Linked DNA regions of Homo sapiens: regions 2 and 3 are each linked to region 1. Evidence: fine-mapped expression QTL. A gene starts in region 1. Each other region holds a variant in brackets. All regions are shown on one strand. Distances are from middle to middle. Region 1 holds the start of CSNK2A2 (casein kinase 2 alpha 2). Region 2 overlaps CSNK2A2 (casein kinase 2 alpha 2). Region 3 overlaps LOC101927556 (a long non-coding RNA gene).

Evidence for each region. PIP is the estimated chance that this variant, and not a neighbour inherited with it, causes the effect. A credible set is the group of variants that fine-mapping cannot tell apart.
Region 2: its variant is the best candidate, but not a certain one, in a credible set for the expression of CSNK2A2 in blood mononuclear cells (TOPMed, PIP 0.55).
Region 3: its variant is the best candidate, but not a certain one, in a credible set for the expression of CSNK2A2 in lymphoblastoid cells (TwinsUK, PIP 0.87).

The regions. Positions count from the first base shown.
Region 1 is chr16:58,196,777-58,199,276 of GRCh38, forward strand. It overlaps CSNK2A2 (casein kinase 2 alpha 2), which reads right to left and starts at 1,330. Exons shown (of 12, transcript NM_001896.4): 1 at 857-1,330; 2 at 1-68. The coding sequence starts at 960. RefSeq lists silencers at 764-833, 1,234-1,503, 1,554-1,683.
Region 2 is chr16:58,161,369-58,164,215 of GRCh38, forward strand. It overlaps CSNK2A2 (casein kinase 2 alpha 2), which reads right to left. Exons shown (of 12, transcript NM_001896.4): 11 at 2,686-2,779. The coding sequence ends at 2,703. Among named protein-coding and RNA genes, the nearest start is that of CFAP20, 33 kb to the left of the region's middle. The variant T/G (reference allele first, on the strand shown) is at 1,693.
Region 3 is chr16:58,145,715-58,148,561 of GRCh38, forward strand. The region is part of intron 3 of LOC101927556 (a long non-coding RNA gene); the gene reads left to right. Among named protein-coding and RNA genes, the nearest start is that of CFAP20, 18 kb to the left of the region's middle. The variant C/CA (reference allele first, on the strand shown) is at 1,169.

The DNA of each region.
Region 1 (2,500 bases):
TGGCCTCAAATACTTCACTATATTTTCCCCGACCAAGTTTTCGAACCAGTTGGTAATCATCTTGATTACTGTAAAAGGAAGACACACACATAAATGCCAGGACTGGGGGTTAACCAAGCCTATGCCCACTGTACACGTCATTCAGCCGCTTCCACCAGGCAAACACTTGGAAGTGTCTATACATCACGTCACAACTCATTCCCTAAATGAAAGCCACGACATAATCTTGGCTCCCTTCACTCTGCAGAGCTCCTAACCTAATTGGTCTCTCCTAACTTGGGAAGATGGGGCAGGAAGGCAACGCTCTGAGCCAATCCAGAGGGGCGAGCAAAGCACCCGTCCTGAAGGCCTAGAGGGTGCCCCCTGTGCCCCGCGGCTCCCCAGCACCTGCTTCTCGTTTCACATCTTCAAGGTAGACAATGCCTGTTTTAAAAATCTGGACGTCTTTAAGAAATTTCCTCCCACCACCTCATCTCAGAAAACCTAAAAGGCAGGGCATTTTAATAGCTCCAAAGGACAGCTGTTGACTTCCCACCCCAGTGGAAACCCAGAAGTGTGAGGAAGGGCAGCTCCCTCACTTCCACCCGGCGTCGATCCCTGGACCCCACACTTCTCCCCGAGTAAAAAAGCATTCCTTGGGGGAAAGGGGTGCGCAAAGCGGGGAGAAAGGGACGAAACGGGGGTAAAGGGGAGGGAAGAGGAAGACGAGGACATGTGCGAGAGCGGGACCTCTGCCTCCCTGCGGGCCCGCGGAGGGGTCGGCGGGAGACACCACCGGGCCCGAGTGCGGTTCGCAGGGGGTGGCCGGGCGGGGGCAGGGATCAGCGGGCCCGGCGGGGGGCGGCGACGGCTTTACCCCCAGCTCGGGACGTGAGCCTCGTAGTCCCAGTACTCGCGGCTCCTCAGACTGTTCACCTCGGCGTAGACCCGGGCCCTGCTGCCCGCGGCCGGGCCGGGCATGGCGGGCGGGACCGGGGGGCGGCGCGGGGCGCAGAGGGTGGCGGCGGCGGCGCGGCGGGGGACGCGGGGCGTCGGGCGGAGGAGGCAGCGGGCCGCCGGGCGCTGGAGGAGGAGGAGGAGGAGCGCGGCGGCGGGCGGCCGCGCCAGGCCGGGCCCGCGGGGGCGGGCGGGCTGGGGGCGCGGGGGGCGCCGGCCGAGCCGGCCCGGCCCTGGAGCGGCCGGCGGGGCGGCGGGGCGGGCGGCGCTCGCGCTCCGCGGCGGTCTCCGCTCGGCTCGCGGCCCCCAGGAGGCGGCGGCGGCGGCACCGGCAGCGGCAGCCACCGGCCGGGAAAGGGGCAGCGGCGGCGGCAGCGGAGAAGAAGGAGGAGAGGAGGAGGAGGCGGAGGAAACCCGGAAAAGGGGCCGCGCTCACTGGGAGCGGCCGCCGCCCGGCCTGGGGCCGCCCAGGCTCACAGCGCCCCCTGGAGCGCGGGGGGACCCGCCGGGCGGTGCCGGCCCCGCCCCGGCCCCGCCCCGGCACGCCCCGCCGCCTACCTCGCGCCCTCCGCCACCCTCGCCCTCCCGCCGCCACAGGTCGGACTGTCCAAATCGCCTCACCCTCGGGCTGGCTTGACTTCACGCCACAGGAGCCCCCCCTTCCACTGGCCGTTGCCCTAGAGCCCTCGCCCGCGACTCCCGACCCTTTCACTGTCCTTGGAGACCCTATCCCCAGCCCTGCACTCACCCAGCTTTTACCCACCCAACACATCCCATACTGACCCTATTCTGACCCTCCTGTCACCCAAACTGTCAAGTCCCTCCCCAGGGCCTCACTCAAACCTCAGAACCTCCCCCACCTCAATACTTCTCCCTTCCCCCGAGACATACCCCTCCTTCCCCCTCTGGACCCTGCCCTGTTAGGGTAGACTCCTCAGTCCCCAAGGCTTCCTACCCCCGTCATTCAGAGTGCTCCTCACAAAACCTTTCTACACTTCCCCCAAATGCCCTTCCAGAGCCTTCCCTGAATATCCACTTTGGTCACTTGGTTAAGCTGGCATTGACCAGGTTGTGCCACTGCAAAGTTACAATTTTTCCCTTTGTGATTAATAAGTCATTTGTGGGGAGAGACTTTGAGAGTGTAAATCTCCTGTTTGTGTTTAGGAGGAGGGAGAGCAGGAGAATTGCAAATCCGACCTGAAGGGACAGGCTGGGTTGGGGATGTGCCCAGAGTAGGTGGTCAACTGAGCTGGCCTGGCTTCCAGTGCTGCCTGCAGCCTTGAACACCCTTCTCCTTTGATCTTCTAGGCCTTTCTTCTGTCTTCCTTTCCCATCCCTCATCCTTTATCGACAGCACCTCTGCACCCAGTACAGGTTGCTTTCATTCCAGTCCCTTTTCACATTCTGTTTTCTGGATGAAACCCTGGGCCTTCCTGCTTGACACAGCTAAGAGCACAGTCTGTGGAGTCAGATCTATCCAGCACTGCTACTTAGAAGCTGTGTGACCTTAGGGCAATTACTCAACCTCTCTGTGTCACAGATTCTACAGCATAAAACCAGTAAT
Region 2 (2,847 bases), 35 kb before region 1:
AATAATTAAGTCCTTATCATAGGCACTTTTAACCTGTTTAAGATAATGAAGCAAACAAATGAAAAGTACTGAGATGAGTTTAAGAAAGAATATGCTAACTGAAAAGGATACTGGGTGCGTACATTTACCATGGTTTAGTCTAAATATTAGACACACAGACACACACACAGACACACACACAGACACACACACAGACACACACACAGACACACACACACCCCTTTTGGAACTCTCCAAGACCATCTCCGAATCTAGGTAAATAGTCTTAAAATTTCGGGGGAGCTAGGTTTGGAAACAAAAATGGTTTTTGGAGACAGGAAAAGAGATGGTCTGAAACTGGACTCACTTCAGTTTGGAAAGGAATAGCCTAGGTGCCAAGACCAGACCCAGGAAGGGGTGAGCATTTCAAGCCCAGTTATGGTCTAAGTCTAAGGCATGAAGAGAGGTAAAAGTCTAGGTGCTGGAAAAGCAAGCTGTGTGCTTCAAAGGAAGAATGCCTGTGTCAAAGCTGCAGTTACAAAACCCCAGGACAAGGCAGGCAGGCGGTGTCTGCACCTACATCACCGTCAGAGAGACAGGCAGAGGTCAATCACCTGACTATTCTCCTCCAGGTACTTTTATTACCTTTGGGGGACCCAAGGGAAAGGAATGGAGTTACCGCTTCACCAAGACCCTCCAGTAGGCACCTCTTGCCTGGTCCAGACAGGCAACTTAAAAAAAAAAAGGGAGGGCTGAGGAGTGGGGTGGGGTGATAAAGGAGATTGGAGGGGGAGCAGGAAAGACACGCAGTGGCACATCTCCCTGATGATAACCAATGCTTCAGGATTGCCTATAAGGGCATATTAGAAGGCTTTTGATAATCTCAAACACTGAGTTTTGCTGCCTGACATATCAATACAGGTTTAGCCAAAGAGCTCACATCTTGCTTTTGATTTTCAGGTAGAACAAATGTTTACATTAGTATACAGAATGTGCAATGCAAGCAGGCAGCATTGGTATGAGAACCTTAACTGAATGCATTCCTTGGCTTTGGGATCTTATTTATTTTTTACTCTATAAACTCAACTCTATAATAAGAGAAGAGTTTCATTTGTATTTTAAGTTCCCACAGACCAAACGACAAAAATAGAATCTACATTTAGAGTAGGATCTGCTACCAATACCAATAAGATTTTATTGGAATATGGAATGTAAACAAATGTTTCAAACAAACATCTAACCTTATAAAAATGTATGGCATTATTAAATAGTTAATAAAGAAATCTTAAAGGGTGATGTGGTAGACACCTCTAGTTCTAGCCTAGGTGTGTGAAGTCCCCACAGCTGTGGCATGGCCCTGCAGCTGGGGTGAGGGGACTGCCTACAAACCATGTTGCTCCTGAGTCCCCAAAATGAAATCAGCCCTATTTTTGTTTAAACAAACTCTAGCTTTCTCTGCTAACATGAAGGTTTGCAAAATGGATCCAACACTTGCTCCGGGAGCACCATTTTCTTCCCCAAGCCCCTTGTATATTCCTCTGAGTTGCTTGAGTTTCAGATGACCCTGCCCACACAACTCTAGTACCTGCATGCAAGACAGACTTATCTTTGCCATCACATAAATGTATCACATATCAGAACTTACAAATGCATATTACCCTGATTACAGTGGGAAACTGTGTCTCATGGGGATAAAAGGAGGTGGGAGAGAGA[T/G]ATTTTTTTCCATAAGTCTTTCCTGAAAAAATTCTAATGGGATGTTTTCCTCCCTCGCCTTGCCTGAAGACTGACTTTCCAGCTTTAGTTATGGTTGTGAACAAAAAGGTCTCTGTTTCAGAGAGGTGCATTAAAATAGGCGCACACATAGGGATGTGCTGGGAAATGGTGAAGTTCTCCTTACAAGGCTGCCAAAAAAAAAAAAAAAAAAAAAAAAGAAAAAGCAACAAAAAAATAGCAACAAGATTTTATGGTTAGGGAAATCAACAAAGGTTATAGTGAGCTCCAAGTTATGCACTTAGCATGGAACTTTTGATGATAACCATGGACCAGTTCATGGCATTGCAAGGTTTCGTGATCCCTCCTGACATCAAAGAGGACTCTTGTGAAAGTGACTGCAGTTTGCTCCCAAATGAATCCACTTGGAGGAAAACTGCGGGGATGAGGTACATTTCCTGGAGAGCTCATGTCATTAAAAAATACATAAAACGTGGATTTGTAAAGAGCTTAAAAAAAAAATACTGTCACTGTTTTAATATCTCCTTTTTGTAAATGAGGCTGGTGTGTCAGTATAGACTGCTGACATTTCGCTAAGACTTGAGCCTGAATTTCACCAAAGGAAACCCAGACCACAATGGAATAGATAGGAAGTCAGACATTCAGAGCTTGTTGACTGAATGGGTTAATTCAACAGTGGTGCCCTGTTAAACAAAGGTAAATGTACAACAACTCCGAGTCTCTATCTCCCATGCATTCCAAAGGCAGAGCTCCTTCAGATCCTGAACTAGGTGCATCCCCATGCTGCCACAGTGACAGCTCCCTGGAGACTAGCACTGGGGAGTTTCTTTCTTGCTTTTTGACAGACTTTTAGGTCTTTACTCTTCTGTGCATTTAGAAGGAATGATAAGAATTTCTTTTTATCACACTGTAGTTTTCCTTCAAGGTTTGTGTTTGGTTGGTTGGTTTTATTGGCAAGCATCAATGCCGCATTACCCGTCGCTTTCCAGTCTTCATCGTGCTGCCGTGAGACCACTGGAAAGCACAGCATTGTCTGCACAAGGCTGGGACTGCTCCTTCACCACAGGGTCTGCAAGAAAGCAGGAGGAAAGTCAGGCAATCAGGGTGGTGAGTGCTGAGAGAAGCCCATGGCAAACC
Region 3 (2,847 bases), 51 kb before region 1:
TTTCACCGTGTTAGCCAGGATGGTCTCGATCTCCTGACCTCGTGATCCACCTGCCTCGGCCTCCCAAAGTGCTAGGATTACAGGCATGAGCCACCGTGCCCGGCCTCCCCCTTTTTTCTTTTCACCAGTCATTCCTTCTTTGTCTTCTTTGCTAGTCCATCTTCATTTCCTCCATGTCTAAGCTTCACAGGGCTCCAGGTGCTGTCTGCAAACTCCACTCTTCCCAAAAATCCACTCCCTCCAATATCAGCTAGTCTCATGGCTTTAATAGCTCCCTATATATAAGCTGATTCTTTCCACCCCTATTCCCAAAGTCTATCTTCACTCCCACTGCCCCATTGGGCTCCATTTGCATATATCCAACCAGCTATTTGACTTCTCCCCTGGGAGGTATCGTGGGCATTTGGATCTTAACATGGCCCAAACAGAGCTTTACATTTCTCCACCCTCTCCCCTCACACACATCCCACATGCAGCCCTTACCCAAGCCTGCTCCACCCCAAGTCTTGCCCATTTTGGTAAGTGACAGCTTGATTCCTTGCTCAGACCCAACACCTTGGAGTCAGTTCGAGCTCCACTTTTTCTCACAGCCCACATCAGCAAATCCTGTAGCTCTACCTTCAAAATATCTCCCCAATCTAATCACATCCCTACCTTTATGGGTACTGCCCTGGTCCAAACATCAACCCCTGATATGGTTTCAATGTTTGTACCGTCCACATCTCATGTTGAAATGTGATCTTCAGTGTTGGAGGTGGGGCCTGGTGGGAGGTATTTGGGTCAGGGGGCAGATCCCTCACTCATGAATAGCTTGGTGCTGTCCTTGTGATAGTAAGTTCTTGGTCTGAGTTCACGTAAGATCTGGTTGTTTAAAAGTGTGTGGCACTGGCTGGGCGCAGTGGCTGACATTTGTAATCCTGGCACTTTGGGAGGCTGAGGTGAGCAGATCACTTGAGGCCAGAAGTTCAAGACCAGCCTGGCCAACATGGTGAAACCCATCTCTACTAAAAATGTCAAAAATTAGATGGGCGTGGTGGTGTGTGCCTGTAGTCCCAACTACTTGGGAAGCTGAGGTACAAGAATCACTTGAACCCAGGATGTGGAGGTTGCAGTGAGCTGAGATCATACCACTGCACTCCAGCCTGGGCAACAGAGTGAGACCCTTTCT[C/CA]AAAAAAAAAAAAAAAAAAAAAAAAGTGTGTGACTTTCCCCCTCACTCTCTTGCTCCCTCTCCTGCCATGTGGCGCACCTGCTTCCCTTTGCCTTGTGCCATGATTGTAAGGTTCCTGAGGCCTCACCAGAAGCATATGCTGGAGCCATGCTGGTACAGCCTGCAGAACTGTGAGCCAATTAAAGCTCCATTCCGTATAAATTAACCAGCCTCAGGCATTTCTTTATAGCAACGCAAGAAGGGCTAATGCAGCCTCTCTCTCCTGTACGCCTGAGACAGCCTCCTCCTGATTGCTTACAACTACTCTTGCCATCCTGTAGTCCACTCTCCACATGGCAGCCAGAAGGATCCTCTTAGTGGCTCTTTGCTCTAATAGCTACTCATTTTGCTAAGAATAAAACTAAGGCTCACACCTATAATCCCAGCACTTTGGGAGGCCAAGGTGAGCAGATTGCTGGAGCCCAGGAGTTTGAGACCAGCCTGGGCAACATGGGAAGACTCCGTCTCTACAAAAAAATGCAAAAGTTAGCTAGGCATGGTGGTGCACACCTGTAATCCCAGCTACTCAGGAGGCTGAGGCACGAGAGTCACTTGAACCAAGGAGGCAGAGGTTGCAGTGAGTCAAGATTGTGTCACTGCACTCCAGCCTGGGTGACAGAGTGAGAAATATATATATTTAAAAAGTGTGTATATAAAATATAAAAAATATTTTTTAAAAGTATATAAATATAAAAAATATATGTGTGTGTATATATACATAAATACACACACACACACCCCCACATATATACACACATTAAAAAAAAAATCCTTACTCTGGTCTCCTCCATCTTGTTCCCTGAAACCACTTTGGCCTTCTCTCCTACATCCTTCTCCTCACACCCTCCTCCCTCAGTGCTGCCTGCACCCTGCATCCCTCTCTCACCGGCTTCCCTCTGCCTCTGTCCCTGCCCTGGCTGGTCCTGCTCTACTGGCTCACTCTTTTCCTCACTCGGAGCTCCACTCAGGCGCTGTCTGTATTAGCTACCTAGAGATGCCACGACAAATGACCACAACCTTGGTATGGTGGCAATTGAACAAAATAAAATTAAAGTAAAATTAATTCAAAATAAAATTTAAATGTAAAATAACAGCAATGTAATCTCTCACAGTGCAGAAAGCTAAGAAGTCCAAAATCAAGGTGTTGACTGGGCCATGCTCCCTCTGAAGGCTCTGGGGCAGGGTCCTTCCTTGCTTCTTCCTGGCTTCTGGTGGCCCCCAGGCATTCCAATCTGGTTGGCTTGTGGCAGTGTCTTTCCAATTTCTGCCTCCATCTCCATGTGGCCACCTTTTCTCTGTGTCCTCTCCTCTCGTTATAAGGATACTCTCAGCATTGGATTTAGGGTACACCCTAAATCCAGCATGACATCATCTTGAGATCTTTGACTAATTACATCTGCAAAAACCTTCTTTCCAAATAAGGTCACATTCTGAGGCTCTGGGTGGACATGAATTTTGGGGGGATATTACTCAGCCCACAATACTGCTTTACTGGAGAGGATGTCTTTGACAACCCAGTCTTAAAAACAGCACCCCCTCCACACCCTACCGACACTTGTCTTCCCACTGCTCTGCCTGATTCTTTTTCATTGCACTCATTACCACTTGACAGTCTAAATAGTTATTTGCTTATTATCTGT